4 linked regions of the Homo sapiens genome follow. The protein of the gene in region 2 interacts with the protein of the main gene of each other region in a pairwise test. Each region holds a gene or a part of one and is shown on either strand. Other genes may lie near its edges. The genes, in order: BOK, ATP1A3, SPIRE1 and EYA3.

Region 1 (7,113 bases), on a different chromosome or scaffold from region 2:
GGAAAGAACCCAAGTATCCTTCAACAGATAAATGGATACAAATGTGGTGGATGTTACTCAGCCACAGAAGGCAGGCTGGGCACAGTGGCTCACGCCTATAATCCCAGCACCTTGGAAGGCCGAGGTGGGCAGATCACCTGAGGTCAGGAGTTCAAGACCAGCCCGGCCAACATGGTGAAACCCCATCTCTACTAAAAATACAAAAATTAGCCGGATATGGTGGTGGGCGCCTGTAATCCCAGCTACTCGGGAGGCTGAGGCAGGGCAATCACTTGAACCCAGGAGGTGGAGGTTTCAGTGAGCCCAGATCGCACCACTGTACTCCAGCCTGGGAGACAGAGCAAGATTCTATCTCAAAAAAATAAATAAATGGCTGGGCGCGGTGGCTCACGCCTGTAATCCCAGCATTTTGGGAGGCCGAGGCAGGTGGATCACGAGGTCAGGAGATCGAAACCATCCTGGCTAAAACGGTGAAACCCCATCTCTACTAAAAACACAAAAAATTAGCCGGGCATGGCGGCTGGTGCCTGTAGTCCCAGCTACTCGGGAGGCTGAGGCAGGAGAATGGTGTGAACCCAGGAGGCGGAGCTTGCAGTGAGCCGAGATCACGCCATTGCACTCTAGCCTGGGCAATAGAGTGAAAAAATAAATAAATAATAAATAAATAAAAGAAGGCATGGGGCTCTGAGGCAGGCTGGGCATGGATGGGCCTCAAAAACACATGCTTGGGTGGAAGCTGCCAGGCATAAAAAGCCACATACAGTGTGAGTCCGTGGATGCAAAATGTCCACAACAGTCAGGGACAGAGCTGGGACGCAGGCTCACGGCTGGCAGTGGGCGAGGGGTGGGGAATGGCGGTGGCGGCCACGGGCACAGGCATTCTGGGGTGATAAAGACCTCCTGAGACTAGTAGCTGGTGGCTGCTCCACACTGGGAATGTGGCAGATGCTGCTGAATTGCACACTTTTAAGTGGATAATTATGTCATGTGAGTTTAACGTCAATTAAAAGAAATGGGGAAAAACACAACTCAGACCATGTCACTCCCCTGCATAAAGCTCTCGTGTTGCTGTGACTTCCCGTGTCCTTCAAAGTAAACCCAAGTTTGAATTCCCAGCTGAGCTGGCCCCTGGCAGACTCCAGCCCTTTTCCTGCCACCCCAACCTCGAAGGTGCCCTTGTCATTGGTGGGATGCGCACACCCGGCACAGCCCCTGCTCTACCCGCTGCACTTCCCCAGCACGTGGGGCTGTTCCTCCTTCAAGGGCACGGCCATGCGGGGAGCGGAGCCTGATGTCAGCACTGCGTGTGGCTTGCGGGACAACCTGTTCTGAGGTGTCCGGTTCCATCAGAACAGTGCATTCCACGCTGGGTGCGGTGGCTCATGCCTATAATCCTAGCACTTGGGGAGGCTGAGGCAGACGGATCACCTGAGGTCAGGAGTTCAAGATCAGCCTGGCCAACATGGTGAAACCCCATCTCTACTAAAAATACAAACATTAGCCAAGCATGGTGGCGGGTGCCTGTAATCCCAGCTACTCAGGAGGGTGAAGCAGGAGAATCGCTTGAACCCGGGTGGCGGAGGTTGCAAGATCACAACTCTTCATTCCAGCCTCGGCAAAAGAGCAAAAATTAAAAAAAAAAAAAAGAACATACTATGTTCCGAGTGATGGCAACATTTCCACTCCAGAGGGGTGGATGGGAAAGAAAGACAGGAAGACAGGAGTCCGGAGGCACCAGCCTCGGCGTCCACTGTGTCCTTCCAGCTCTTCTGTGTCTTTTTAACTGATATAATTCCATTACCATAAAATTAATCTTTTAAAAGTGGGATATCTTTGAGCATATTCACAAAGCTGTGCAACCATCACCTCTATCTAATTCTAGAACATTTTCATCATCCCACGAGAAACCCCATGCCCACTAGCAGTCACTCCCTATTTCACCGACAGCCCCTGGCAGCCACTCATCTTACTTTCTGTCTCTGTAGATTTACCTACCCTGAAAATTTCACATAAGTGTAATCACACGGCTTGTTCATTTTGTGTCTGGCGTATTTCACAGGTTGAGGTGGCAGGAAAAGGGCTGGAGTCTGCCAGGGGCCAGCTCAGCTGGGAATTCAAACTTAGGTTTACTTTGAAAGACACGGGAAGTCACAGCAACACGAGAACTTTATGCAGGGAAGTGACATGGTCTGATTTGTGTTTTTTCCCAGCACTGTGGGAGGCCGAAGTGGGTGGATCACCTGAGGTCAGGAGTTCGAGACCAGCCTGGTTGACATGGTGAAACTCTGTCTGCTAATAATATAAATAATACTAACAATACAAAAATTAGCTAGGCGTGGTGGCACATACCTGTAATCCCAGCTACTCGAGAGGCTGAGGCAGGAGAACTGCTTGAACCCAGGAAATGGAGGTTGCAGTGAGCCGAGATCGCACCATTGCACCTCCAGCCTGGGCAACAAGAGTGAAACTCCATCTCAAAAAAAAAAAAGAAAAAAGAAAAAAAAGAAAGAATAGGGTCTGCCTCTGTCACCCAGGCTGGAGAGCAGTGGCACAATCTCGGCTCACCGCAACCTGCGCCTCCCGGGTTCAAGCGATTCTCCTGTCTCAGCCTCCCGAGTAGCTGAGATTACAGGCATGTGCCACCAAACCTGGCCAATTTTGTATTTTTATTAGAGACAGGGTTTCTTCTTTTTGGTCAGGCTGGTCTCAAACTCCCGACCTCAGGTGATCCACCCACCTCGGCCTCCCAAAGTGCTGGGATTACAGGCGTGAGTCACTGCACCCAGCCATTTTTATTTTTCTTATAATAAAACTATAATTAGAAGAATTATATAAAATTACATATGTATTTATAGAAAATACAATTCAAATTCAAAGAAAAAAATAAACACTATTGCCAACTTTTAAATGGGGAGGAAAATTGAGTTCTACCACTTTGGAGATGAGTTTTTCCAAAGTCCTGAGCAGGAACTTTGAAGCCCTAAATGAAAACAGCCAGAAACAACATTTGTTGGCCTCTGCCTTCGTGGGAGTCTCCTGGGGCTGGAGACTTGGAGACCCCCACGGAGCCCTGCCCTGCAGCCCTCACACGGCTCACAACACTAGCCAAGGCCCCAGCCCTGAGGTGCGGGCTGTGCAGCTTGCCTGCAGTGGAGGGGCTGGGCAGGGCGCACACCCTCAAGGGCGCCTGCTAAGAGGAGGAGAGGGAGGAAGACCGGGGGTCAGAGCGTGCAGGGATGGCTGGCGTGGGAGGGGCCTCAGGCAGGGAGGCAAGGATGTGTAAAGCACTTGGAGGCTGGAGGCTCGCCCTGTAGACAAAAGGGCCCAAGAGGACTGGGATGGACAAAGGTGAAGGGGGCTGGGGGTGCAACTGCCAGTGGGCCTGAGGGGCAGAAGGGGCGGCCCTGCCCTAGCTCCCTAGTCAGGTGGCTCTGGTTCAGGGAGGTTCAGAAACCCGTTGCAGGTCACGAGGCTCTTGGGCTTCAACCTGCGTGGCTCCCCTCGGGCAGGGCCGCCTCAGAGTAGCAGCAGGTGGGGGTGTGGGGGCTGCCACATGGCCAGAGCCGGGCCTGCGTGGGACAAGCCTGGGGCGCTGGGTGGGGTGGGGGATGCTGACCACAGGGGAGTGGGCTCCGGTTTTCCAGTGAAAACAAGACTTAAACTGAACTCTACACATAGCCCGGGCCACCTGGCCGGTGCCGCCCACATTCCCCGTCAGCTGTGTGCCCGCTCGTCCAGCCATCCCCTTCCCCTCAGCCCTCCCTGGCCCCCAGGTGCCCTCCCAGAACCAACCAGAGCCTTCCTAGGCACCGCCCCCACCTCAGGCCAGGCCCTGCTCAAGCAAGGCCGGGCGGGTAGGGGCATCCTGGCCCCATCCTCTCTCCCTGCCGAAGGGGGAGGCGCCCCACCTCTGGGCAGGCTGCTGCATTCTCAGAAATGACTGTTCCTTTTAAAGCCAGCCTGCAGCTCGTAAACCCAGCGGCCCCGAGACAGACACCCGGGTGGCCACCCACGCGCCGGCGTCGGCCAAGGGAGGGCTGAGAGTGGTCGTCAGCCCAGGATGCCTTCCACCCCTGGCTTCCTTCCGGGGCCCCACCCACTGCCTGCCCCGTGCCTGCCTGGGTCACCCTGGCGGCAGGAGGGGCGGGCACCAGCTTGCCAGCTCCTGCCACCATGCTTCCGCTGCCCACTGTGCCGTGAACCCTGCCCCCTGCCCACCCGGCCCCTGAGCCACACCACCTGCCCACTCCCCAGCCCCTACCCATATGCACCCCCAGCCGACTCAGGTCTGCCCCATGACACGCCTCAGCCTGGCCTGGGCCCGGCCCCCCACCCTCAGCTGCCACGTGGGGGCCTTGGAGCCAAACTGCCAATGAGGATTCATTTACGATCTCCCAAAGGAACACAGGAGCAGTGACAGAGTCCAGGCTCTGAGGCCACCCCAGGAGCGCCAGACAGGGAGTCTCGCCCGCACCCAGCTTGGTTCCGCCTCCTGACCCCACACCACAGCCTGAGGTCACTGCCCCTCCCCAGGTGTGGTCTGAGGCACTCCAGCACATGCTGTGGCAACAAGACAAGCCCGGAGGCAGGACCAGACCCCGCCTGGACTCCCATCCCTGGACTCAGCCTTCCCGCTCCAGCAGCCTGCCAGGTCGCCGCTGCATCCCAGCCACAGTAACTTCTGTCCAGGGAGGTCAGCAGTGAGCAAGCGTGGCACTGGAGAGGCCGGATTCTGTCAGAAAATGCTCGCAGCCCCCGCCGCCTTGGCCTCCAGCCGAGGGTGTCAGCCCCGCTCTGTCCCCATCTGGCTGGCCCACCAGGGGTCGGAGGAGACGTCTGGGAGAGGAGCTGGAGGACACCCCACAAAGGTGGGGTCTGCCTGAGCGAGAGGCAGTGGTCCTCACACTCCTGGCCTCTTCCCCTTGCCCTCCGGTGGGTGGAGGTCCCGAGGCCATCTGAAGACCCCTGGCTCTGAGGGTCACCCCGTGGCGTGGGATGCATCTCCCACAGCGAGGGTGTGGCTTCCTCTGGCGCCTGATGCCTGGCTCCTGCTGCTGTCAGGACTGCCTGGAGACAAGGCAGCTGAGGCCACAGAGATGACAGCAGGCCACAGTCACACAGCTGACTGGCCACGGACCCACACCAGCTCCCAGACAAGGGTGTGCAAGGCCTCCCTGCTGTCAGGGGTCTTCCAAAAAACTGCCCCAGGGGAACAGCATGCCCCTCCTCCAAGCTTCAGGGAATCCTGCGCACCCCGGGGTTCACTGGCCCAGAGCTGTGCCCAGCACCTGGACAGCACTTGGAAAACAGCTGAGGAATGTGCCAATCAGGGAGGTGCCACATCAGGGCCGGCGCACCACTCACCCCAACAGCAGCACCCAGCGCCTGCCACACCCAGGGGCAGCTCATAGCACGGGGTGCCAGGACAGGACCCAAGGTCACAGAGGTCAAAGGCAGGGGGCTGAGGTCTGCAGGGCCAGACCTGATGACATGGGGCAAGCGGACAGAAGCCACACTGGGCAAATCCAGGCCAAGGCAGCTGGACAAGTGGACAGCGGGCACCGAGTAGGGGAGACAAGCCCTAAGCCTCCCGTGGGCCTAGAAGCATGTGGACAGCCGGGAGCAGCAGGAGCAGGGAGGCAGGGCCAGGAGATGCCTCTCCAGGGCAGAGATGGGAGCGCACAGGAGGGTCACAGGTGAGGCAGGCACAGCCAGGTGAGATGCGCTGCTGTTCTCCGGATGCCCTCCGGGAGCCAGTCTGCTTGGACCCCCATGCTCTCCCCTCTCCTGGACGCTGGAGCCCTGAGGCTCGCTTCTGACCATCAGAATCCAGCAGAGTTACCCGTGACTTCTGAGGGTATATCCTAACAGCCTGGCAGCATCTACTCGGGAGCTGTCTGGGAAACCTGCTCCTTGCCACTCCTCCTTGGGACACAGCACCATGCTGTGAGAAGCCCAAGCCCCGCTCGGGGGCCCCTGCAGGAAACCAGGCAGCCCTAGGACGTGCCACCCCACAGGACTGCAGGTCACGCGGCCCCACGGATGCTGGACCACAACTACAACCAATCAAGAAGCCTGTGCCAGCTGCTCAGCATGCCCACCAGCCTGCAGAACCACAAGAGACCCTGAATGCTGTGGTTTGAGCCCACGCTGGTGGCTGGGCAGCTCCTGACACCTGCAGCAGTGAGATGGCACCGGTGGGCACTGGGCAGCGCCAGGATGGGTGGGGGCCAGCTCGTGGGGTCCCTGTGAGCCTGAGCCACAGACCCTGGATCCCTCCCTGAGGTCCCATGGGACGGGCAGGCTGGGCATACCTGCAGAGAAGATGTGGCCAGCCACGGCCAGGAACGCATCGGTCACCACAGGCTCAGACTGCAGGGAGATGTGCAGCTGACGCGCCACGTTGCGGTAGACGCTGGGCCGGATCATCTCCAGCTCATCGCCTGTGTGGTCACAAGAGCAGGTGAGAGGCAGCCCACGTCCCAGCTTCCTGGGACACGACTGGCTTGGGGCACACCCTGCACCTGACCCCCACCTGACCATGCTTGAATTCCAGCCTGTTCCTCACTTGTCTGATTCCCACCTCCACTTGACCCCATCTGACCTCCCTTGGGCCATCCCCCAACCTTGGCCCCTAGGGACCAGAAGACCAAGGAAGTACTGAAGGCGCCCCCAGTCCCGCCCCTCTGACGAGCCAGCCCCTAAGCCTAGCCGGCCAAGCCGGTGGGGCGGGAATCCTGCGAGAGCGTGGGCCGTGCCTGCTGGTGACTCACAGCCGACAGGCAGCCGAGCTGCCCAGAGCAGGAGGGACCAGGCAGACGGCCAGACCCCGACGTGGGGAGGGGCTGGGCAGAGAAAGCACTGGGGTGAGAGCAGGGGAGCCCGACGTGGGGAGGGGCTGGGCAGAGAAAGCATTGGGGTGAGAGCAGGGGACAGCCCGAGAGCCCGGCTCAGGCCCTAGCATGGCTCAGGGACCACTCAGATGCAGAGGCTGAGCCGCTGTCCTGGGCCACCCGCACTGCCACGCTCCCACCTGGGCTGGCTGGGCCGCTGTCCTGGGCCACCCGCACTGCCACGCTCCCACCTGGGCTGGCTGGGCCCCTGTCCTGGGCC
Region 2 (8,094 bases):
GCGGCCCGAGCCGGGCCCTGCTGTCACTGCGCGCGGTCCGCGAGATGCGCCTCAGCAACGGCAAGCTCTACTCGGCCGGCGCGGGCGGGGATGCGGGCAGCGCGCACGGGGGCCCGCAGCGCCTCCTGGACGACCCGGGGCCCCCCAGCGGAGCCCGACCCGCCGCCCCCACCCCCTGCACCCACGTGCGCGTCTGCCAGGAGTGCCGGCGCATCCAGGCGCTGCGGGCCTCGGGGGCCGGCGCGCCTCCGCGTGGCCTGGGCGTCCCCGCCGAAGCCACCAGCCCGCCCCGGCCGCGGCCTGGCCCCGCCGGCCCCCGGGAGCTGGCGGAGCACGAGTGACCACGGGCGGGGCTGTGCGGGCGCCCGGACTGACCGAAGGGACGGGGCCCGCCCCAGGCCCCAGCAGTCTCCGCTCCCGCAGCGGGCGCGGGACAGGACTTGTGCGCCGGCGCCCCGGACGCCGCGATTTTGCCTTTGGTTCCCCGCGAAGTCCGAGGCCTGGCTCTGGAGCCCGCCTGCGCCCCCCAGTGGACTCGCGAGAGGGTGCCGCGGGCGAGAAGGGCGCAGGAACCGAGGACTCCAGGGGCTGGGGACTTCGGGGGCGGCTCTGGGAAGCGGAAAGCAGTCAGCGGAGAGGACCCCATTCTGGGACTGCTCAGGCTCCCCAAGACTTGACGCAGCCCCCCACGCTTCTGGAGGTGGGGAGGGCCTCTGGACAGATGGGTGTCCCCTGGTGCCCCTCCACTCTTCTCTTCCTCTCTTTTTTGGGGGGAGAAACCTCGGAATTTCTATGAGACCTCCCCCAGGGAGGGGGTCAGTTGGGCCCCCATCCCTCCCCTTGCCACATCGCAGCCCCTGTTGGAATAAAAAAAAGAACAAAACCCCAGAACTGGGGATACCGTCTCTCATTTCCTGGGGGTGTGAGGGCTTTGGAGGCTTGGGTCCCCGGGGCACCTGCTGAGAATCAGAGTGAGCCTCGATGGTTACTTCCATGCTCTCTCCACCCTCAGCCCTGCCTACAGGCTGCAGGCCAGCCCGGGTCCCAGCAGCTGGCCCCTCTCCACTGACCTTCTCTCAGGACAGAGGGAGGCTGCGACAGAGACCCTGAGACAGATGGAGAGATGCAGGGATCTGGAGACGCGGAGACACCGGAAGCGGAGACACAGAAAGACAGAAAACAGATGGGGCTGGGGGAGGGGAGGGCCAGTGAGCTGTTGAGTGTGGCCGTGCCTGGGGTGGCGAGTGTGTGCCTGGGCCGGGGTGATTCAGTGACGTTGTGATCGTGTGTGCACGCATCTGCGAGGCCATCTTCAACTGTCTGTGGCTGTGATCCCGTGTTTCTGTTGAAAATGTACCTCCCCAACCCCCAAGAGAGGAAGTGAGGAATCCCAGTAGACTGGGGGGTGGGTGGGCGGGCAGGGGTGGGAGAGGCTGAAGGGCTGATGGCGCAGGAGAAAGGTGGGTCCGCCTTCTGTCCCCGCCCTCCCTGCCCCGCCGGAGGTTTCTGTGGAAACTGCAGCTGAGGAAGGACGAGTGAAGGTCACACAGCAAGAGCCAAAACGAGGCCGAGCAGAAAGGGAGAGATGGAGGGATGGCGAGAGACAGAGATGGGGAGAGACAACGAAGGGGGCAGAGTGGGCGGGAGGGGGATGGGGAGAGAGAGCTAGAGGACACAGAGCCGGCGAGACAGGGAGAGAGGCTGGGTGAGGTGAGAGAAGACTGGAGAAAGAATAGAGGGCTGAGACCAGAGGTGAAGCGGGAGGGTAAGATACACCCGGAGTTGGGGTGAGAGACAGGAAGCCATAAAAAACTAAATGGAACCTGGAGGGGACTGGAACGGAAAGGAAAGCCTGACTGGAAAGGTCCCAGAGAGAGCGAGGCTGCGCCCGTTCCTGGGCGGCGGCCCGGGGCTTGGGAGCTGTCCGTTCAGCACCCAGTTGGCCAGCCTGAGCCCAGAGCGCCCGACTTCCCTCCAGGGCCCGCCTGCCCAGCGCAGTCCTGGCAGGCCGGCCACACCCTGGGAGACCCCTCCCCGCACACAGCGCCCCCCGTCGCCACCCGTCCCCTTCTGCGTCTCAGACCCTGGTTGCGTGCCCCTCGGACAGGTGTGGGGGCAGGCACCAGCCTCTCTCTGTTGTCTCGCATCTCTATCTCCACGTCTCTTACACACTCCAATCAATGTCTCTGCCCTTGGGTCGGACTCTTTGTCGAGGTGACTAGAACATGATTACAGACATTTCTGGTTTCTCCCCCTTCTCTGTCCCAATGCCTCGAGGCCAATTCCCTCTGGGGTCTCCCCCATTTCTGAGTCCCCGGTCCCCTACCAGGTTTCTGCTCAGTCTCCCCCTGGCCTTTATCTCTGAGTCTCCCTGGTTTACCAAGCCTGTCTCTGCCTGGCTGTCTACGTCTCTCTGTCTCTGTCACCTTCACTGAACTCTTCCGTTGCTCTGTCTCCGTGTTCTCATCTCTGCATCTGCCAATCTCTGTCTGTCTTTTTCAATCTGTTTGTATCCGCCTCTCTCTGGTTCTGGGCTGCCTGTTTCTCCCTCTGTGTCTCTCCTTCCGCCTCTCACATCTAGCTCCCCTATTCCCCTTTATCCCTGTGACCTTCCCAGGTCTTTCCTTCTCACCGCCCCCCCTACTTCTGCAGAGCCTCACCAGGAGCACGATGCACAGTCATCAGTCTCATCAGGCTCGTGCCTGAGGAGAGAGTGCATGAGGGGGGACGTGAGCTTGTGTCTGAGGTGGGATGGGAAGGGCTCAAGGCCTCCCCCGGCCCAGCTGGAGAGCAAGAGCAGACAGAGCCTAGAATCTCCTGGAATCCAGGCCTCCCCCACCTCCCCAGGCTTCCCCATCTCCCCAGTCCCATTCTCCATGGTCCAGGCCCATGCCTCTAGGCCAAGGTGTCAAGAGAAGGAAAGGAGGATATGTTGATAGGCTCTCCCTCCCCTAGGAAGAGGGCAGAGTTGGGGAGGGGGCGTCTGGGGGTGAGGCATCTGGGTTAAAAGATGTGGCTCCTCCCCCTTTCCCAGTCTCCATGGCAACAGCCCAGTCTGCAGGCCCAACCTCCTTTGCTGCAGAAGCAGCTCCCTGTTACCATGGCAACAAAGGACAGCGAGAAAGATGGGGACGGGTCAGAGGACAGGATTGGGATGGGGCTCTGGGCACTGGGGAAAGCCTCCATTCACTCTCTGGCCTTGTCTCTGTCCATATGCTGTGGCTCTGAATCTCTGTGTTTCTGTGCCTCTCTCTGGCCTTCAGCCTTTCACACATTTCCCTGCACCAGGTCCTCGACCTTCACCCACCCACCCTCATACACCAAGCTCACTCCCTGTCCCTTGCCTGCGTCCCCCACATCTCCTATCCCATAGGTGGAGAGGATACCCACATTCTGAGAAAACTACAAGGTCAAATGCTCTCTGTCTCTCTCTCTCTCTCTTCCCCTTCTACCATCCCCAGGGAGAGTCTGGGGTGTTCCTCATAGAACAAAGTGGTGTTGGAGTGAGTGGGGAGGCCTCAACTTCTTGGGCTCCAGTGGGGTGGCTGATGGGGTGTTGTGTGTCGGCAGCAGGCCTGGGGTGTGGGTGCCGGCTGTGCATCTGTGTGTGTACATATACTGTGACGAGCTCTGTGTGTCATGTGGGTGAGGGCGTTGGGGTGTGTTTGGAGGTGCAACAAAGATGTCTGCGATAGTGCTGCAATAACGTGATGTGTGTATGTGTGGGAGGTGTGTGGGTGTCGCGTGACTTGTGTTTGAATTATTGTGCTATGTGTAAGTGTGTGCACCTTTTTGTCTGTCATTCACAGTTAGCATTGGCAACTTTGCACTGTGGGCCGTTGCTCATGCCCAAACACACTGGGGAGCAGTGTGTGTGAGGATGTGTGCGACATCGTGGGATCATGCAACGATGTCCACAAAGGCTGATGTAGTGTGTCTGGAGGCAGTGTGAGGCCTGTGCGTGTGTGATGGTGCTGAGTGCAGGTGTGTGTTGGTTTATGGGTTGCACGATGTGGGTTTCTATGTGAGATGGTGGGAGGTCAGGTGTGGTAGAGTGTGTGATGTGTGAGTCTGCGATTTTCTGAGTGTCGGTGTTAGTCCGCACAGCACTTTGTGGCTGTGATTATGAGTCTCTTGTGGTGTGATGGGTGTGTAAGGTGTGTGCCCTATGTGTGTTTCACTCTATGTTTGAGACTCTGTGTGTGGTGGGGTGGTGTTGTGTGTGTGAGGGTACATGCTGGCCTATGGTGGAATATGAGTGCAACCCTGTGGTGTGTGCGTGTCCCCAGCATCTGGGCTATCAGTGTGATGGTCCTGTGTAACTGTGACGCTGGGCATTTTCTGGGCCTCCTGGGGCCATCCTCCACCGTGTTGTGTCTCCCGTGTACCCTGTGTGGTTGTGGCTCATTGGATAGCTCAGGCGTAGTGGGGGGGCACCCACAGTGAGGGAATCTCAGGGCTCCTCCCGCCAGCACCCCTCCTCAATTGCAAGGCCTTTCTTGCTCTCTTGTGTTCCCTTCCAACTTCCCCTCCTGCAGGGCCCTCTCCCTGAACAGCACTACCCCCCGCCGTCTCCAGGGTCCCTGGTGCCACACTGCAGTGATTCACCGGGCTTCCCTCCCACCCCGTGTCACTACCCGCCCCCCCTCCCCCAGCGTACCCTTCTCGGTGATGGCACACCCCCACAATGAGAGGATTTCCGGGGTTTTCTTTCCCTGAGCGCCCCTTCTTGGAGGCCCTACTCCATATTGAGGGGGTCTCCAAGTCCCCTATTGCGGAGGTCTCTGGGAATCCCCCCACCCCCGCAGCGCTCCCCCTTCGCGGCCGCGCCGCCACTTTGCGGAGCCCAAGGGGAGGACAGCTGCAGTACCAGGGGCGGGGCCGCGGGCCGTCCGTCAGCACGGCGGCGCCCCTGATTGGCCAGCGCCGCCCCCCTCCCGCGGACGCGGGCATATGAGGAGGCGGAGGCGGCGGCCGCCGCAGCCTCTGTGCGGTGGGACCAACGGACGGACGGACGGACGCGCGCACCTACCGAGGCGCGGGCGCTGCAGAGGCTCCCAGCCCAAGCCTGAGCCTGAGCCCGCCCCGAGGTCCCCGCCCCGCCCGCCTGGCTCTCTCGCCGCGGAGCCGCCAAGATGGGGGTAGGTGCTGAGCCGGCTGGGCGCCGCTTCCGTGTGACATTGTGGGGCCGGTGACATTGGGTGTGCGCGGGGGGCGGGGGCACCGGGACCCCTGCGCTCCGGGGCCAGGCCTGCGAGACCCGGGGAGCCGGCTGACCCAGCCAATCCATGTGGTCGTGGGGCCGCAGGGGGCGGCGGGGGGTCTGTGGCGCACGTTGGCATGGCTTTGTGTGCGGAGATCCGCGAGGTTGTGGGCCAGCCCTCAGCATCTCCGCCTGACCTTGTGCGGTTGCATGTGCACAGTTGCATGTGCGTATGAGAGCTGCTGGCTCTGTCAGGCCCTGGCAGCGAGTGTGTGGGCCCCGTGGTGTCTGAAAGTCTGCGATCGCGTCTGGGTGTGTCTGTGAGAGCTCGTGTTAGTGCGTCTGGGGTTATTGAGGCCCCCCTGCTTCCCTGGCAGGGTGCGGATAGGTCCACGTTGTGGGATGGACACCAGATGACCTCTCTTTCTCCTTCCAGGCCTGGATGGGGGGACTCCGCAGTGTGTGTGTGTGTGTGTGTGTGTGTGTGTGTGTGTGTGTGTGTGTGTGCAGGCTCCGCAGTGTCGCAGCCTGGGGCTGCAGTGTGTGTGTGTGCAGCCCCTCATGTAGGGGAGCAGGCATGGGAGGCTGGGAGGAGGAGAGGAACAGGAGAGCCACGGTGGGGAGACTGAGTGCACAGCTGAGGGTGTGCGTGTGCAACTGTGTAGTGGGGAGCGTGCATGCCTGGCTGTGTCCTTGCCTCTGTGTCCGTGTGTCCTTGTCTGTCTGTGAGTCTCTCCAGCAGATGCCGCCTCCCTCCCTGGCTGACCACCTGACCCTTGCTGCAGCCCTGGATTCCTCCCTGTGTGTCTGGGGCGGGGCTGAAGGGAGGGGGAATCAGGAGAGGAGGGGGTGGGTGGGGGTAGGTGGGATGAAGAGGGCGGGAGAGGCCAGTGGAGGGAGAATAGGAGGGCTGGGGAGAAAGATGGCGGATAAAGGCTGATGGGCCCAGGGATGGAGGTGGGGGATGGGGCTGCAGATCTGTGGGGTGGGGCAGGGTGGGCCGGGGGGCTGGGAAGGAGGATTGGGTTGGGGCAGGACTAGGGGAGAGAAGGGAGAAAGGGGTAGTCAGTGATGGCTGTCAGGTAAGTGGGATGGAGGGAGGGAAGCTGTGGATGGATTGGGAGAAGACTGATGCTAAAAGCCCTAGAGAAGGAAGTTAGAGGGAGGTGGTCTTAGGAAACGGAGTGGGGACGAGAGGAGAAATGAAGGCAGCTTAGACATGGGAAGGAAAGACAGAGACACATGGAAAGACAGAGATGCTCTGAAAGAGACAGAGAAAGAGACATGGACATAGAGACAAAGAGACAGAGACAAGCAGAGAGACATGGCTGAGACACATGGAGAGACATTGAGAGAGAAAATGAGAAACTGAGGCTCAGAGGAAGAGACACAAGGACAGATATTTCCTATCTAGCGGCAACCACAGTCAGCCTGAGGGACAGGAAGAGGAGGCAGAGGGCAAAGGGGGAGGTCAAGGGAGGGATGGTCAGAGATGTGGGCCAGGTCCCCTGCGAGGGGGAAGGGAGGCCGGCCCAGGCGCAGAGGCTGCGGGAGCTGGCACCAGATCAGGGAGAGGCGGACAGCATGGAAAATGGCAAGGAGCTGCAGAGGCGGCCACAGCGAGACAGGCATGGTCCCCACCCTTGGAGGTGCTCCCACCCCGCAGCGCGCCCATCTGGGCCTCCTGCCTTGACTGGGAAAGCCTCAGCTGTGCACTCCAACAGATGGGAGCCTGCTCCCCAAGGGGGTCTGGCTGTGTCAAGGGCAAGCAGGAGCCAAGGCCAGGGCCAGGGTGAGCCAGGAGTCCCAGGGTCCCGGTCCCTCCTCCCTCAGACCAGGAGTCCAGGCCCCAGCCCCTCCTCCCTCAGATCCAGGAGTCCAGGCCCCAGCCCCTCTTCCCTCAGACCAGGAGTCCAGGCCCCAGCCCCTCCTCCCTCAGACCAGGAGTCCAGGCCCCAGCCCCTCCTCCCTCAGATCCAGGAGTCCAGGCCCCAGCCCCTCCTCCCTCAGATCCAGGAGTCCAGGCCCCAGCCCCTCTTCCCTCAGACCAGGAATCCAGGCCCCAGCCCCTCCTCCCTCAGACCCAGGGGTCCAGGCCCAGCCCCTCCTCCCTCAGACCCAAGGGTCCAGCCCCAGCCCCTCCTCCCTCAGACCCAGGAGTCCAGGCCCTGGCCCCTCCTCCCTCAGACCCAGGATTCCAGGCTCCCAGTCCTTCCTCCCTCAGACCCAGGGGTCCAGACCCCTGCCCCTCCTCCCTCAGACCCAGGGATCCAGGACCCCAGCCTCTCTCAGTATCTGAGAGTCCGGCCCAGCCCTTAGCATTTATGGGGCCCCGAGCATCAGCTCCCAGCCTTCAACTAAGGTTTCTGGGTGGGCAGCTGATTTTCTCCCTCTCTCTCTCCTGACCCCCATCTCACCCCTCTCCTGGCCTCCTGCACAGGACTTGACCCCAGGCCTTTGTAGCTCCACATCTCTCCATCTCTCCATGTCTCTCCATCCTGGGTCTACCCCATCGGGCAAAGCTGAGACCACCCCGGCACTGTAGGGCAGTAGGAAAGATGGTCTCCCCGTCCCCCAAGCCTCTGTGCCTCCGCATCTGAGACGCAGTGCTGCTGCAGGGCTGGCGTGGGGCCAAGCCTCCCTCCCACCCCCTGCACCCCTTCTTGAGGCTCCCAGATCTCCAGGCTGCTGCCCCTCCCTGCACACCCCCACCCTCCGACTCAGCCTCTGGGTCTGGGGGCAGACAGCAGGCAGCTCAGGCCCTCTACAAGGTCACGAGGAGATTAGCGCTGAGCCGCGCTGAGCCTCCGATCCCAGCTTGGCCCTGGGCCTGCGGGACCTGTCAGCGGCCCCTGCAGCACCCAGCCTCGCCCCACCCCTCCCACCAGCCT
Region 3 (7,113 bases), on a different chromosome or scaffold from region 2:
AAGGTTCAAATAATGATATATTATTCTGTGTAAAAAAACCTCAAAAAACAGTAATATAATGCAGAATTATTTAAAATAGCCACATCATTAAAAAGGAAACTTGAAATTTCTCTTTGCAGAGAAGTGACGTACACACCCTGGTTGTCATAACACAGCTTCATGACAGGTGATGGGAGCACACAGGTTTCCTGAGCCCATGCCCTGGTTGTGCAGGTGTCTGTGGGTGGGCGGAGTCCACCATGGCTACCTGGCCTGGCAGGAGGATGCTCTGCTCACGGAATGAGTGAGCAAATACTCTTCTGATGGTGGGGGGAGGCCCTAGGAGGAATGCACCCCACGGGCTCAGAGTGCCTGCTGCACATGGAGAAAGGTGGCAGCACTGACTCTGCTATACAATTAGGTCACCCGAGGAGACAAACACCCACAGGTCCCCTTCATCAGATGCTGCATTTTGAGTTTGTTGTCCTTTCCCAGTTATTTCCCTCAACTGAGACCACGGCATGATCGGTGCATCCTGCACAAGGGTGGAATCAATGATTGGAAGCAAAGTGCTATCTAAGCGGTTAATTCTCAGAGAACGCAACAGTTGAGGTGTCACCGTCAGAGATACAGAGAATGAAATAATCCCAGACCCAGCAGAAAGAGGCCAACCTTTGAGGATTTCCACCTGCTGGTAAAAGCTCTCTCACACAGATAATACATAGCCCCTGCTACCCCAAACATGGCTGCTTCAAAAGGATGAGAGCTGAGCAGAGAAGCTGTTTGTATGGTAGAAAAAAGTGGTCGAAAAGGCGTCCTTGGCCATACACTGGTTATCCTAGGAACCTGAACAACAGATAAGGGAAAAAGAAAATGGCAGGGGGAAAAGAAAAGGAGAAAATAATGCTGAACACAAGTGACCTACACATAGTGATTACAGATCACAAAAGGAAAACAAAACAAAAAACACCATGAGGCTGGTACAGTCCGTGCGAACATCTGCATCCACACGTATAAATCAGTGATGAAACCACGAAGTCCTTCCTGGAGAATCTCAGCGTTCACACAGCAAGGATTTTTCTAATTTAGGGTCCTGCAAACACTCTGAGTTTCCTCAGTGGGGCTTGTTGTGATGAAGGATAGAGGCAACTCGTTACTGTGCCTGAGAAAGCATGGGGACATGTGCCAGGCAGCCACTTGCACCTGCCCCAGGAAGGTACTGCCAACACGAGGTGCCTTTAGACTGGATGGGCATTTGCCCTCGGTTATTTGACCAAATGATGAAAAAAAATGACATTTTAAACATCACAAGAAAAGGGAGGGAGATACAACAAAAATAAAAATTATCAGCCGGGCACAGTGGCTCACGCCTGTAATCTCAGCACTTTGGGAGGCCGAGGCGGGCAGATCACCTGAGGTCAGGAGTTCGAGACCAGCCTGACCAACATGGAGAAACCCCGTCTCTCCTAAGTATACAAAATTAGCCGGGTGTGGTGGCACATGCCTATAATCCCAACTACTTGGGAGGCTGAGGCAGGAGAATCGCTTCAATCCGGGAGGCGGAGGTTGTGGTGAATCGAGATTGAGCCATTGCACTCCAGCCTGCGCAACAAGAGCGGAACTCCATCTCAAAAAAAAAAAAAATTATCAACAATAAAAACATTCCTGCCATTTTCAGTTGAGGAGTTACAAATACAAAATGATTCTTTGTTTTCTAAAATGCAGCTACATTTAAAAATTAATTACACTTATAAAAACAATACTTACCAAGCTATAGGGCATTACTACAAGGTATGATTTTATGGATTTCCCAAGATAAGCTATTAGCAAGGAAGATCATTTCGTCTCTGCTGGTGCTTGGAGGCCTGCGTGGACTCTGCTCCCTGCCCTCAATCTGACCACTGTTCAGTGCTGAGCAGAGCGGCTCTCCCACTGCCTGCTCACTGAGACCTTCCTCAGTGATTGCAAGTTAGTTTATCTTGCTCTCCTTCCTGCTCCACAAAAAAACAGTGCACGGCCTGACCTCGCAACACTAAGAGCTCTGCTTTAACAGGAAACAGACACAGTCATGGGCCCTTGGGGTCAGCTGAAGGTCTCAGCATAACTTCTATTATAAGCTGAAACTACCTTGTAGCTAAGCTGATAGTTCCTTTACATTGCTAATTTTAAACTTTAAGTCTAACCTCAATAATGACATTGTATGATCACATAAAGGCCAGTTACAAGCTGAATGATAGACTGGCTTCTAGGAAAAGCTGAGTGAAGAAGAGAATACCCTAATGATTAGACTTATGAAAAAAACCACAAGTTCCCTCTTACCTATACACATGTATGTGTGTGTGTGTGTATGTATGTATATACATACATGTGTGTATGTATGTACATATGTACGTACATACATATGTGTGTATGCACGTACATATGTACGTACATACATATGTGTGGTATGTACGTACATATGTATATACATACATGCGTGTATATGTATGTACATACATATGTATATACATACATACACACACATATACACACACATACACATATGTGTGTATATATATTTTTAGAGACAGGGTCTTGCTGTGTCATCTACGCTGGGGTGGAGTGGCACATTCTTAGTTCACTGTGGCATCAAACTCCTAGGCTCAAGGGATCTTCCCTCTGCAGCATCCTGAGTAGCTGGGATTACGGGCATGCGCCACCACATCTAACTAAGTTTTTAATTAAAAATTTTGTACAGACAGGGGTTTCTTAAGTTGCCCAGGCTGGTCTCAAACTTCTGGCCTCAGGCGATTCTCCTCCTTTGGCCTCCCAAAGTGCTGGGATTACAGGTGTGAGCCACTGTGCCTGGACCCTCTTACATATTTTAAAGTTGTGATAATAGCTGTATATTTTGGTAAAAGCAATAACTTATTCACATGAAAACAAATTTTTAGATTTTTACGTTTGAATCTGTCTGGTCAGAGTTCTGTTTTCTTGTTGGTAAGTCACTGACAAGGCTATATTTAATCGAATAGCTGTGTTTTGGTGATTATTCTGGAGCTAGAAGAATCCTATCAGGAATCGCCATAAAATCATTAGTTCTTTAATTGCACTGTTTTGGCATAGAGATGAATGACCAAATATTAACATTCTAAGCTCTGTTCAAAATCCCTGTCTTCACAATAATCGCATTATCTCCCATCTGTTATTACTTTAATTGAAACTCTAATAATTCATCACAGCCTTAAAAAATGGACTTAGTATTCAATATATTCTATTATTTTTTATTCATGAATATTTGAAAACACATTAGATATTTGACTGTGGGTAGAATATTAATTACAGCTGTGCATCTTGCCTACAAATATTTCAGAAGCCAAGTGGCGCTACAAAAGAGTCTTTGGAGACCTCTGTTGGCTGGGAGATCTACTAATTCCTCCTGGCAAACCCTTGTGTGCTGCCCACTGTCCTGAGAAATGAGCACCCACTATAAGAACCTGCAAGTCTCTGGAAAACAGCAAAAACTATAAACCAGTTCAACCAAAATAACACCACTGGCCCCAAATATCACAAAACATACTAGAAAACAATGTACAGTAGTTATTAATGGATCAAAATTCTCCCTCGCTTGTACTTCTGCCTCAATAAGATCACCTACTGTAGTCATTTTGCTAAGAGTTTTTTTGGTCAATTTTTAACAATTTTTAAATGGATTAATAGCCTTTGAAAGAAAGAAAGCATTTCTTTAATAATAATCCATACTTTCAACCACTGATAAATTTTCTTGAAAAAAAAAAAGAGCTCAAAATGAACAAACACTGGTCAAGTTTCGTTTAGGTTATGGATAGAGTTTGGAGAAGGTGTCACTCTGCTGCCCAGGCTAGAGTGCAATGGTGTAGTCATAGCTCACTGCAGCCTTAACCTCCTGGGCACAAATGATCCTCTCACACCTCATCCTCTTAAGCAGCTGGGGCCACAGGTGTGCACTACCACACCTGGCTAATTATTATTATTTTTTTTTGCAGAGACGGGATCTCACAATGTTGCTCAGGCTGGTCTTGAACTCCTGGAGTCAAGTAATCCTCCCACCTTGGCCTCCCAAAGTGTTAGGATTATAGGCACGAGCCACCACGCCTGGCTGTTTGTTTTCTTTAGCTATTAAGTAAGTTATTCAAAATTCATTCTAACTTTTGCAAGTTTTTTTCTCCTTATCATCTTCATAAGAAAGCTAATGATTCTATGTCTTCTAGCTGGTCCCTAAGTTACTACAAAGTCTTTCCTGTACTTACAAGAGAGCGGGAACTCTGCCTGGAAGGCGGCAGGAACTGCCTCACGTTAGTAGGCGTTTCCTTTTCAATGGAATGTCGTCTCTGGGGTGGCTGCCGTCTCTCTGGCTGGGGTGTTGATGATATGGGCAGGAATTTTGGAGGCTCTAAAGATTGAACCAAATGAAATAAAACTTACTGTGAATTTTCTAACACAAAACCTTTTGACATTTGTGACAAACACTGTAATTCAAAGATGAATTATTTATTTCATTGGAGAGATATTTTAAGATGGTAATGGTAATCCTTAGGAGTAGACTCTGAGGGCTGTTACAGAAGAATCTTTGCAAAGTAAACTTGCTACAGAAATAGCAAGAAAAAAGGAAAAATGTTAGGTGTAGCCAGAAAGATTCCCAAATCATACCAAAATTCTCAATGTACCCTCTTTTTACATTCTCCTTTTTAAAGATAAAATAAGGAAAATCCTTCTTTCTACATGTTTACCAAGACATTTTGTCCTTAGGTTTAAATTAAACTGTATTTAAACTGCAAAAAGTAAGCTTCAGCTTTGATGTTAATATTGTACCATTGTCCTTCTCTGCCTAGTAATATTTTAAGACTGTTTAAAAGGAGACTGCTTTAGTGTCTGAACGGTTCTGGATTCCCATTTTGAAAACAAAAGGAGAACATTAGAAATAAATTATGGTGCCAGAGTTTTATTTAGTGCTTCCTCCTACTCTATCTACAGAGTAGAGCTGCTTCAATGTAGTGGGTGTGGAAAGTGAGAGTCAACACAAAGTTACATATGATCCATCTATTTAGACTGTCCCACCATGAGAAACCACTAAAGGAAAACACAGATATAATTTCCACAGTCAAGAAAAGATACAGAAATCCATTATGTGATTCAATTGGGTCCCTATAATATCCAATTGTGGATAGTCAGTACCTACTGTTTTTGATATAATCTGTGTAAATAATAAAACTACTTAAAGAATTTTTGTGTATGAGAAATCAAGCCAATATATAATTTTTAATACTTCATAATGTTCTTATAAATGAAAAGGATTATTAAAAGCCTTTAGAAATCCCTTAACTTTAGATATCTGTGTTCAGAATCTATCTCCTAAAGAGTTATAAAGGTGTTTTCACTATCTACACAGGTTTTTGGAGATGGGTGTGTGTGGGTGGTAGGTGGAATGATAATAAATATGGTTGTGTTGGGCTTCTGGTTTAAATTTAGCCAAGGAGGTAATCTATCTAAAACAAAACAAAACAGAACGCTACACACACAACTGATTTATAATATTTCCCATGACTATTGTTCGTAAACACACATGTGCCTGCTCTGTCATAAGACCCCGAGGCCTGGTATGATGCCACTCTTGGAAAATAAGTATTTCATCTCCCGATCAGTGAAATGCCTGAGTTAGTTCTTTCTACCCTAGATGATCACAGGGCGCTCTGGGATCTCTGCTCTAGGTCAAGTGTGTTTTGTAGTAAGACATCCGACTACAGCTCTTAGCACCACAACTACTCACTCTTCCTTGTGGACACGGCCTCCAGGACTGGCTCTTCAGGGAAAGAGGGAGACACGCTGCTGCTGCTGGTCGACTTGTGCAGCGTTTCTTCCTGAGCAAAGTACAGGTGGAGAAATCGACTTCTTAGACATTTGTGCTCTAGTGCTACGTAATAACATTTTATTATTAAACAGTTATTTTAACATGAGGCACCAAAGTATGTCAAAGGTTCAAGGCAAGCAAAAGACAAACTAGAAGGGGTTTCAAACAAGACAGGTCTGGGTTTGTGCCTTGGCTCTGCCCTGATGAGAGTGATGTGAAACTGAGCATGCTTCTTTCTGTTTTTTGGAGACAGGGTCTCACTCTGTTGCTCTGGTAGCAGTGCAGTGGTGTGATCTGGGCCCACTGCAGCGTCTACCTTCTGGGCCCAAGTGATCCTCCCACCTCAGACTCCAGTAGCCAGGATCACAGGTGTGCACTTCCACACCCAGCTAATTTTTAAATTTTTTGTAGAGACAGGGTCTTCCTATGTTGCCTAGCTGGCCTTGAGCTCAAGCGATCCTCCCAAAGTGCTGGGGTAACAGGTGTGAGCCGCTGCACCTGGCCTGAGCATGTTTCTTATCTTAGTTTCATCATTGTGAAAGAGGGTATTTAATATCACTTTTTCCATAGGGTTATTGGAAAGATGAAATGAGGTAATGCATTCAAAATGCTTAACACATTACCTGGCACACAATAAAACAGTGGTTAATATTATTAGGGAAATATTTAATACATTTATACAAGTAATACATTGTCAGCCTCATGGGAGCAGATGCTGGGTCTGTCTTGCTCACTGATGTATGTCCAGTACCAAACCCATCACTTAGTAAGTAATGAGTGTTTGTTGAATGAATGGATGAAAAAATAAACATTTCATGAAATGTCATATGAGTCTAGAAAAATGTCTACATTGTGGGCCAGGTACGGTGGCTCGCACCTATAATCCCAGCACTTTGGGAGGCCAAGACGGGCAGATCACGAGGTCAGGAGTTTGAGATCAGCCTGGCCAGCATGGTGAAACCTCACCTCTACTAAAAATATAAAAATGAGCCAGGCGTGGTGGCACGCGCCTGTAGTCCCAGCTACTTGGGAGGCAGAGGCAGGAGAATTGCTTGACCCGGGGAGGCAGCGGTTGTAGTGAGCTGAGATCGCATCACTGCACTCCAGCCTGGGTGACAGAGTGATACTCCGTCTCAGAAAAAAAAAAGAAAAAGAAAAAGAAAAATGTCTACATCGTGCCAAATAAAATTAAAATTCTTATTACCAGTGAGAAGAGATCCTAACTTGTTTTAGACTAAACAAAAATAAAGTATAATATTTATTCCTGA
Region 4 (7,113 bases), on a different chromosome or scaffold from region 2:
ACGACCTACAGAATGGGAGAAAATATTTGAAGATTATATATCTGATTAATATAAGGGATTAATAATCTAGAATATTCTAGAATATTAATATAGAATATACAAAGAACTCCTACAACTCAACAATGAAAAACCAAACAACCCAGTTTAAAAGTGGGCAAAGGTTCTCATGCTTGTAATCCCAGCACTTTGGGAGGCTGAGGTGGGTGGATCACCTGAGGTCAGCAGTTCAAGACCAGCCTGGCCAACATGGTGAAACCCCGTCTCTACTAAAAATACAAAAATTAACCAGGCGTGGTGGCATGTGCCTGTAATCCCAGCTACTCAGGAGGCTGAGGCACAAGAATTGCTTGAACCTGGGAGGCAGAGGTTGCAATGAGCCGAGATTGTGCCACTGCACTAGGGAAATGCAAATCAAAGCCACAATAAGATACCACTTCACATCCATTAGAATAGCTATTATCAAAAAAATGGGAAATAACAAGTGTTGGCGAGGATGTGAACAAACTGGAACCTTTATGTATCGCTGGTAAGAGTATAAAACCGTGCAGCCACAATGAAAAATAGTTTGGTGGTTTCTCAAAAAGTGGAGCACAGAATTACAATAGCATCCAGCAATTCCACTCCTACATATATACCAAAAAGAATTGATAAGATGAACTCAGATAGATAATTGTACACCAATGGTCAAAGCAGCATTACTCACAATAGCACAAAGGTGACAAACCCCAAGTGTCCATCAACAGATGAATGGATAAACAAAATGTGGTATATACATATAATAAAATATTCAGACATAAAAAGGAATGAAATTCTGGTATGTGCTACAACATGGATGAACCTTAAAAACATTATGGTAGGCAGGGCATGGTGGCTCACGTCTGTAATCCCAGCACTATGGGAGGCCGAGGCAGGCGGATCACGAGGTCAGGAGTTTAAGAACAGACTGACCAACATGTTGAAACCCTGTCTCTACTAAAAATACAAAAATTAGCCAGGCATGGTGGTGTGCACCTATAATCCCAGCTACTCTGGAGGCTGAGGCAGGAGAATCACTTGAACCCGGGAGGCAGAGGTCACGGTAAGCCGAGATCGTGCCACTGCACTCCAGCCTGAGACTCCATCTCAAAACAACAACAACAACAACAACAACAACAAAAAACCATTATGGTAAATGAAATAAGTCTGGCACAAAAGGATACATTTTCTGTGATTCCACTTATATGAGATATCTAGAATAAGAAGTCAAAGACAGAAAGTAGAATAGAGGTTACCAGAGGTTAGAAGAAGGGGAGAATGGGGAGTTACTGCTTAATGGGTACAGAGTTTTCATTTGGAATCATGAAAAAGTTCTAGAAATATACAGTGGTGATGGTTAGACAATATTGAGAATGTATAATGACACTAAATTGTACACTTAAAAATGGCTAAAATGGTAAATTTTATGTATATTTTAGACAATTAAAAAATGAGTTATCAGTTTTTCCTAAGAAATATATCAGAAATTTACTTTTTCTTTCTTTCTTCTTCACTCCAAACCTCTGAAAAAAGAGAAAAGGCTTCAAATACAGGCTCAGTTCACCTATGTCTTAAGAGCACTTATCAATGGATTCATAGTTAAATATGTATTTTCCCCTCAGTACATAATAGCACTATAGAAAAACGGAAAACAGAAAACAAAAAGATAATACAAAAACTCCACTAATTTTAGCACTCTGCATGACCTTTATGTCTTTAATGATGAAGTCAAATGTATGTCCATAATAAACTCATATAGTACTTACACTACAGAATAAATCAGCACCAGTCTCATTAATAAGTTACCAGATCTGTTTGCGCCTTACAGAAACTTGGCTAAAAGCACTCTAGTCCTTTCCTTTTAAATTTCTTTTCTTTTTGAGACAGAGTCTCACTCTGTTGCCCTGGCTGGAGTGCAGTGGCCCGATCATAGCTCACTGCAGCCTCAACCTGCCAGGCTCAAGTGATCCTCCCATCTCAGCCTCCCAAGTAGGTGGGACTACAGGTGTGCAGCTAATTCTTGTATATATATATTTTTAGAGATGGGGGTCTCACTATGTTGCCTAGGCTGGTCTCAAGCGATCCTCCCGCTTCAGCCTCCCAAAGTGCTGGGATTACAGATGTAAGCCACCGCACCTGACCCTTTTAAAATTTTAAATAGAGAACAGTATGACTTTACTTGTAACTCCCTCTGCTTTCTGAATATGATGAATTGTTTCTGTTCTCTTCTGGAATATACAGAATAATTTGTTCTTTTTACATTTTTCTTTTAACGTGGCCAATTTAGTTTATTTTGCTCAGGAATTAAAGGGCACATAACATAGTGCACATTATCTCTGTGAGCTTCAAAAACATGTTTGATAAACTTAAGAAGTGAGAAAGAACAAAGTAGGTAACTAAATCAGTTTCTTCTCATACTTCTAATTCACTGTCTTGGGAAGAAGTGGCATCAGCTTTCCTCTTGCCCCGGTTCTTGCTAGTCATGTTTTTCCTGGACTGATCATCAGTATCTTTACTTGGTGTAGTCTGGGACAAAGATGGACTTGTAGAAGGGTCTCCTGGAAAGAAAAAGTGAAACATATGTTGTCAGGAGTCACAGGCTATAAGAATCAGGGCAGGAAGAGGGTTAGTGGACTCTCTGCCCTTGTGAGTCATAATGCAGGGATAAAGGTTGGAAAGCTAAACCTTATGTAAGCAATTATGAAGTGTACATCTAGGCATTGAGCATCAGCACTGGCTAACATCAGAAAAGTTATAACCAGACTTTATATGCTTACCCCATGATAGAAGAAAATATCAATGAAGTTGTTTTGCCAAGAAAAAGCTGAACCTGAATCTTCATGGTCAAACTTGTAGATTAGAGTTTCTCAACCTGGCACAACTGACATTTTGGATCAGATAATTATTTGTTGTGGGGGGATGTCTTGTGCATTATAGGATGTTTGGTTAAGCAGTATCCTTAGCATCTACCCACTAGATGCCAGAAGCACCGCCCCACCTAGTGTAACAACCAAAAATGTTTCCATACATTGCCAACAGTTGAAAACAACTGTTCATTCACCAATTTACTATAAAATACAGAAGGCAGCAGGACATGTTAAACCACCTTATGAGGATATAACTGTCAAAATTCAGACTGGGAAACAGTATGGGATCAACACTCCAGTTTCTTCAACAAACAAACTACAAGGGGGAGAAAAAGAGACGGGAGGATTTATAGGTTAAAATAGAGATGAAACACAAAATACCCATAATTACCAATCACAATTTATGGACCTTATATTTGGATCCTAATTTTCCCTCCTCAAATTTTCTATTTATTTATTATTTCTATTTACTAATGCGATAAAAACTGTATATGCTTTATGTTGTTTTGAAATATGTATACACTGTGGAATGGGTTGGATCCTACTTTAAACAAAAGGGAAACAAAACTCATAACATTTATGAGAAAGCTGGAAATACAAATACATTTTGGTACTTGATAATACAAAATTAAGACATTATTAATATTGAACTTTTAAAGATGGGATAATGCCATTGTGGTTATGTTAATAAGTACCATACTTATCTTTTAGAGAACAATGCCTGGAATCTGGGGAGGGAGCTAGATGATGTATAGCTGAAACAAAATTGTCTATAAGTTGATAACTGTTGAAGATGAATGATGGATATGTAAGTGTTCATCACACTAGCCTTGCAACTTTTCTCTATGTTTGAAATTCTCCAATATTCAAAAGTTAAAATTGTTATAACAAAGATATTTAGAAAAATGACTTTAAAACCTTAGTTTTTAATCAACACTTGTAATTATTTCAAATTTATGTAAGTTTGAAGTGGCGACCATTTGTATGTCCACTTATTAGACTGGTAGGGTGACCGCACAGAAAACTGTTCACTTGTTATATAGTACTGTTTCTAAACATGCATCAGTGCCAATGATAAACAGTGCTTTCCTCGAACCACATGATGTGAAAGCCAACTACCAAATTTTCATTAAATATAAATAAAAAGTGTGTGTATATATATGTTTATTAAATGTGTGTCTAATCTTTTATGTCAAAGGTTTTTAAGTTGGACACTGTAATTCATTGATACACTTCAGAGCTGTGAGCATACTGAAATTGTAGGTTAAATTGTATATATTTCTCTGAGGGAAAAGGACCATGCTTTCCTCAGAATCTTAAAGGGATCCTGGACATAGAAAGAACTATGGCTCTGAGGCCTTAGCAGCAGTTCAAAACCTGCGCAAGACTAAAACTGGAGTCCTCCAACTTTTACAAAATATTATAACATGCTGAAGCTCCCTGTGGCAAGTGGGTTAAAGCTACAGGGAGGGTAGAGTACGAGTCAGAAAGAGTCTTTTAGTTCTTGATACTTTTCTGTTCCGTTCTCAGCATCAGGTATACATTCAGCCTACCAATGACTCACAGCCTGCTTCCAATACTCCTCACCTCAGAGGGAAAGCCAAAAGCATGGTAACAATGACTTAAGACAGAACAAAATCATCCTTACCATTGCCTAAAAACAACTGTTGGATGAAGTGACCTTAAGCCAAAGTTTTCAGAGCTGCGGTGCTTACCAGAGGAAAGTCTCTGTGCTGCAGGTGCAGGCGCCATGACACTAGGCTTCTCCGACTGGTATGTGGTTGCTGCTAATGTGGTGCTCTCTGCATCACTGTTAGTCTGACCTGTGACTCCAAAGCTGGAGCTGGGGTAGCAGGCCTGGTACTGATTCTGACCAAGAATAGTATAGGTGGGATAATCCTGCAGGCCAAAGGAAATAAGAAAACAAGACTCTTATAGCATACATTAATCTCAACACAAGAGGCTTTCTTCTCCCTCTTTCTTATTCATAATTATTTTTCTAAAACATTAATTTGACTTCTCATTTACCTACCTAAAAGTCTCCAATCTAAATCAATGATTTTCAAAATGCATTCTGTGGAAACCTAAGTCAAGAGATGTCCCAGGAGCAGTCTTGGAATGAGGAAATGCTGAGAGGGAAGGGTCTTCTGTACTCTCATAAACATACACATGGTGTCCCTTTTTGTACTCTAACAGCCTCTTCCCCCAGTTTTATGTACCGAATTTCTGCACAGAATTTGAGGGAAAGATTCTACTCTAAGAGGTTTACAAACTGTTGCACTAGATAATAGCACTTCTAAGGACAACAAAACAAAACTTAAACTTAAGCAAACAAAAAAAGCACATATCCTACATTAAAATGTCTTAATTTAAAAACTGATTATCAGCTGGGTGCAGTGGCTCATGCCTGTAATCTCAGCACTTTGGAAGGCCAAGATGGGTGGATCACTTGAGGTCAGGAGTTCAAGACCAGCCTGACCAACATGGTGAAACCCTGTTTCTACTAAAAATACAAAAATTAGCCTGGCGTGGTGGCACATGCCTGAAATCCCAGCTACTTGGGAGGCTAAGGCACAAGAATCGCTTGAACCTGGAAAGCGGAGGTTGCAGTGAGCCGAGATTGCATCACTGCACTCCAGCCTGGGTGACAAAGCGAGACCCTGTCTCAAAACAAAACAAACAAAAAACAACCTGATTATCTACCTAAAACAATCAAGTTTTCTTTAAAAATAGTTTCCTGGCCGGGAACAGTGGCTTACGCCTGTAATCCCAGCACTTTGGGAGGACGAGGTGGGAGGATCGCATGAGCTCAGGAGTTTGAGACCAGCCTAGCCAAAATAGTGAGACCTTCTCTCTACTAAAAATACAAACAAACAAACAAAAATCCAGGCATGGTGATGCACGCCTGTGGTCTCAGCTATTCGGGAAGCTGAGATGGGAGGATAACTTGAGCCCAGGGGGCAAAGGTTGCAATGAACCAAGACTGCACCACTGCACTCTAGCCTAGGTGACACACTGTCTCAAAAAAAAAAAAAAAAAAAAAAAAAAAAGGCCAGGCACGGGAGCTCACGCCTATAATTCCAGCACTTTGGGAGGCTGAGGCAGGCAGATCACATGAGGTCAGGAGTTTGAGACCAGCCTGACCAACATGGCGAAACCCAGCCCCTACTAAAAATACAAAAATTAGCCAGGTATGGTGGCATGCACCTGTAGTCCCAGCTACTAGGGAAGATGAGGCAGGAGAATCGCTTGAATCTGGGAGACAGAGGTTGCAGTGAGCTGAGATCATACCACTGCATTCCAGACTGGGCAACAGAGCAAGACTCTGTCTCAAAAAAAAAAAAAGGTTTCTTAAAATATTGGGATAAAACTTTTGGTTTCATAGGCACATATATGGCAAAACTTACTAAACTGTACAATTTAAATCTGTGTAGTTTACTGTATGTCAATTACTCCCTAATAAAGCTGTAAAAAAACTAGGTATGACAGTTCAAATACGCAGCTAAAAAAATTCCATTGACACTGATAATGATGGCAAGTAGGAAAAAGCTAACTGATCAGATACATTATTTCTAATTAGTCATTGGGTATCTCTACCATAAACCAAATATAATTATATGTATGTGTGTATTTGTGCATGGGCAGAAGAAGGAAATATTAAAGAAAAGAATAAGTCACACTAGCAGAACTCAAGGGAGTTAAAAATCTAGCAGGAGAGAAGACAGACAACAAAATGGCAATAAAATATATGTCAAATGACTGAAATACAGAACAGACAACTATCATTGTAAAGTATGATGGTGAAGAAGCTTTCTGAGATTAATAGGCAGAGAAAGTAAGAACATGAATAGGCTCTGAGGAGATTTTATTCAGGGACCACAGATGCTGAGTCTGGTTGAAACAAAGGACCTCTGTAGGCCTGAATGATTGGTAAAGCAATAAGACTTGGATTCTTTAGGCAATAGTATATAGCCTGTGGGCTAGGGAATAGGGAATGGGGACTCTCAAATTCAAACCAACGAATAAAAACATGAAAAGAAGGAGAATGGCGTGAACCCGGGAGGCGGAGCTTGCAGTGAGCAGAGATTGCGCCACTGCACTCTGGCCTGGGTGACAGAGCGAGACTCTGTCTCAAAAAACAAACAAACAAACAAAAAACATGAAAATATTCTGAGCAGGTCAGTAACATGACAAAAAGTGGGATTTAGAAAAAATTAATGAGATAGTATTT

Evidence for each region.
Region 1: the proteins of ATP1A3 (region 2) and BOK interact in binary tests that used the Homo sapiens proteins (3 or more experiments, as listed by UniProt).
Region 3: the proteins of ATP1A3 (region 2) and SPIRE1 interact in binary tests that used the Homo sapiens proteins (3 or more experiments, as listed by UniProt).
Region 4: the proteins of ATP1A3 (region 2) and EYA3 interact in binary tests that used the Homo sapiens proteins (3 or more experiments, as listed by UniProt).

The regions. Positions count from the first base shown.
Region 1 is NC_000002.12:241,561,678-241,568,790, reverse strand, and holds part of BOK (bcl-2-related ovarian killer protein), read right to left. Parts: intron 6,444-7,113; coding exon 6,315-6,443; intron 1-6,314.
Region 2 is NC_000019.10:41,991,118-41,999,211, reverse strand, and holds the start of ATP1A3 (sodium/potassium-transporting ATPase subunit alpha-3), read left to right. Parts: upstream 1-4,981; 5' UTR 4,982-5,135; coding exon 5,136-5,141; intron 5,142-5,744; exon of another isoform or gene 5,745-5,780; coding exon of another isoform or gene 5,781-5,819; intron 5,820-5,985; exon of another isoform or gene 5,986-6,004; intron 6,005-8,094. UniProt on the Homo sapiens protein: This is the catalytic component of the active enzyme, which catalyzes the hydrolysis of ATP coupled with the exchange of sodium and potassium ions across the plasma membrane.
Region 3 is NC_000018.10:12,459,104-12,466,216, forward strand, and holds part of SPIRE1 (protein spire homolog 1), read right to left. Parts: intron 5,856-7,113; coding exon 5,765-5,855; intron 4,391-5,764; coding exon 4,248-4,390; intron 826-4,247; coding exon of another isoform or gene 652-825; intron 1-651.
Region 4 is NC_000001.11:28,008,514-28,015,626, forward strand, and holds part of EYA3 (protein phosphatase EYA3), read right to left. Parts: intron 4,782-7,113; coding exon 4,598-4,781; intron 2,574-4,597; coding exon 2,434-2,573; intron 1-2,433. UniProt on the Homo sapiens protein: Tyrosine phosphatase that specifically dephosphorylates 'Tyr-142' of histone H2AX (H2AXY142ph). 'Tyr-142' phosphorylation of histone H2AX plays a central role in DNA repair and acts as a mark that distinguishes between apoptotic and repair responses to genotoxic stress.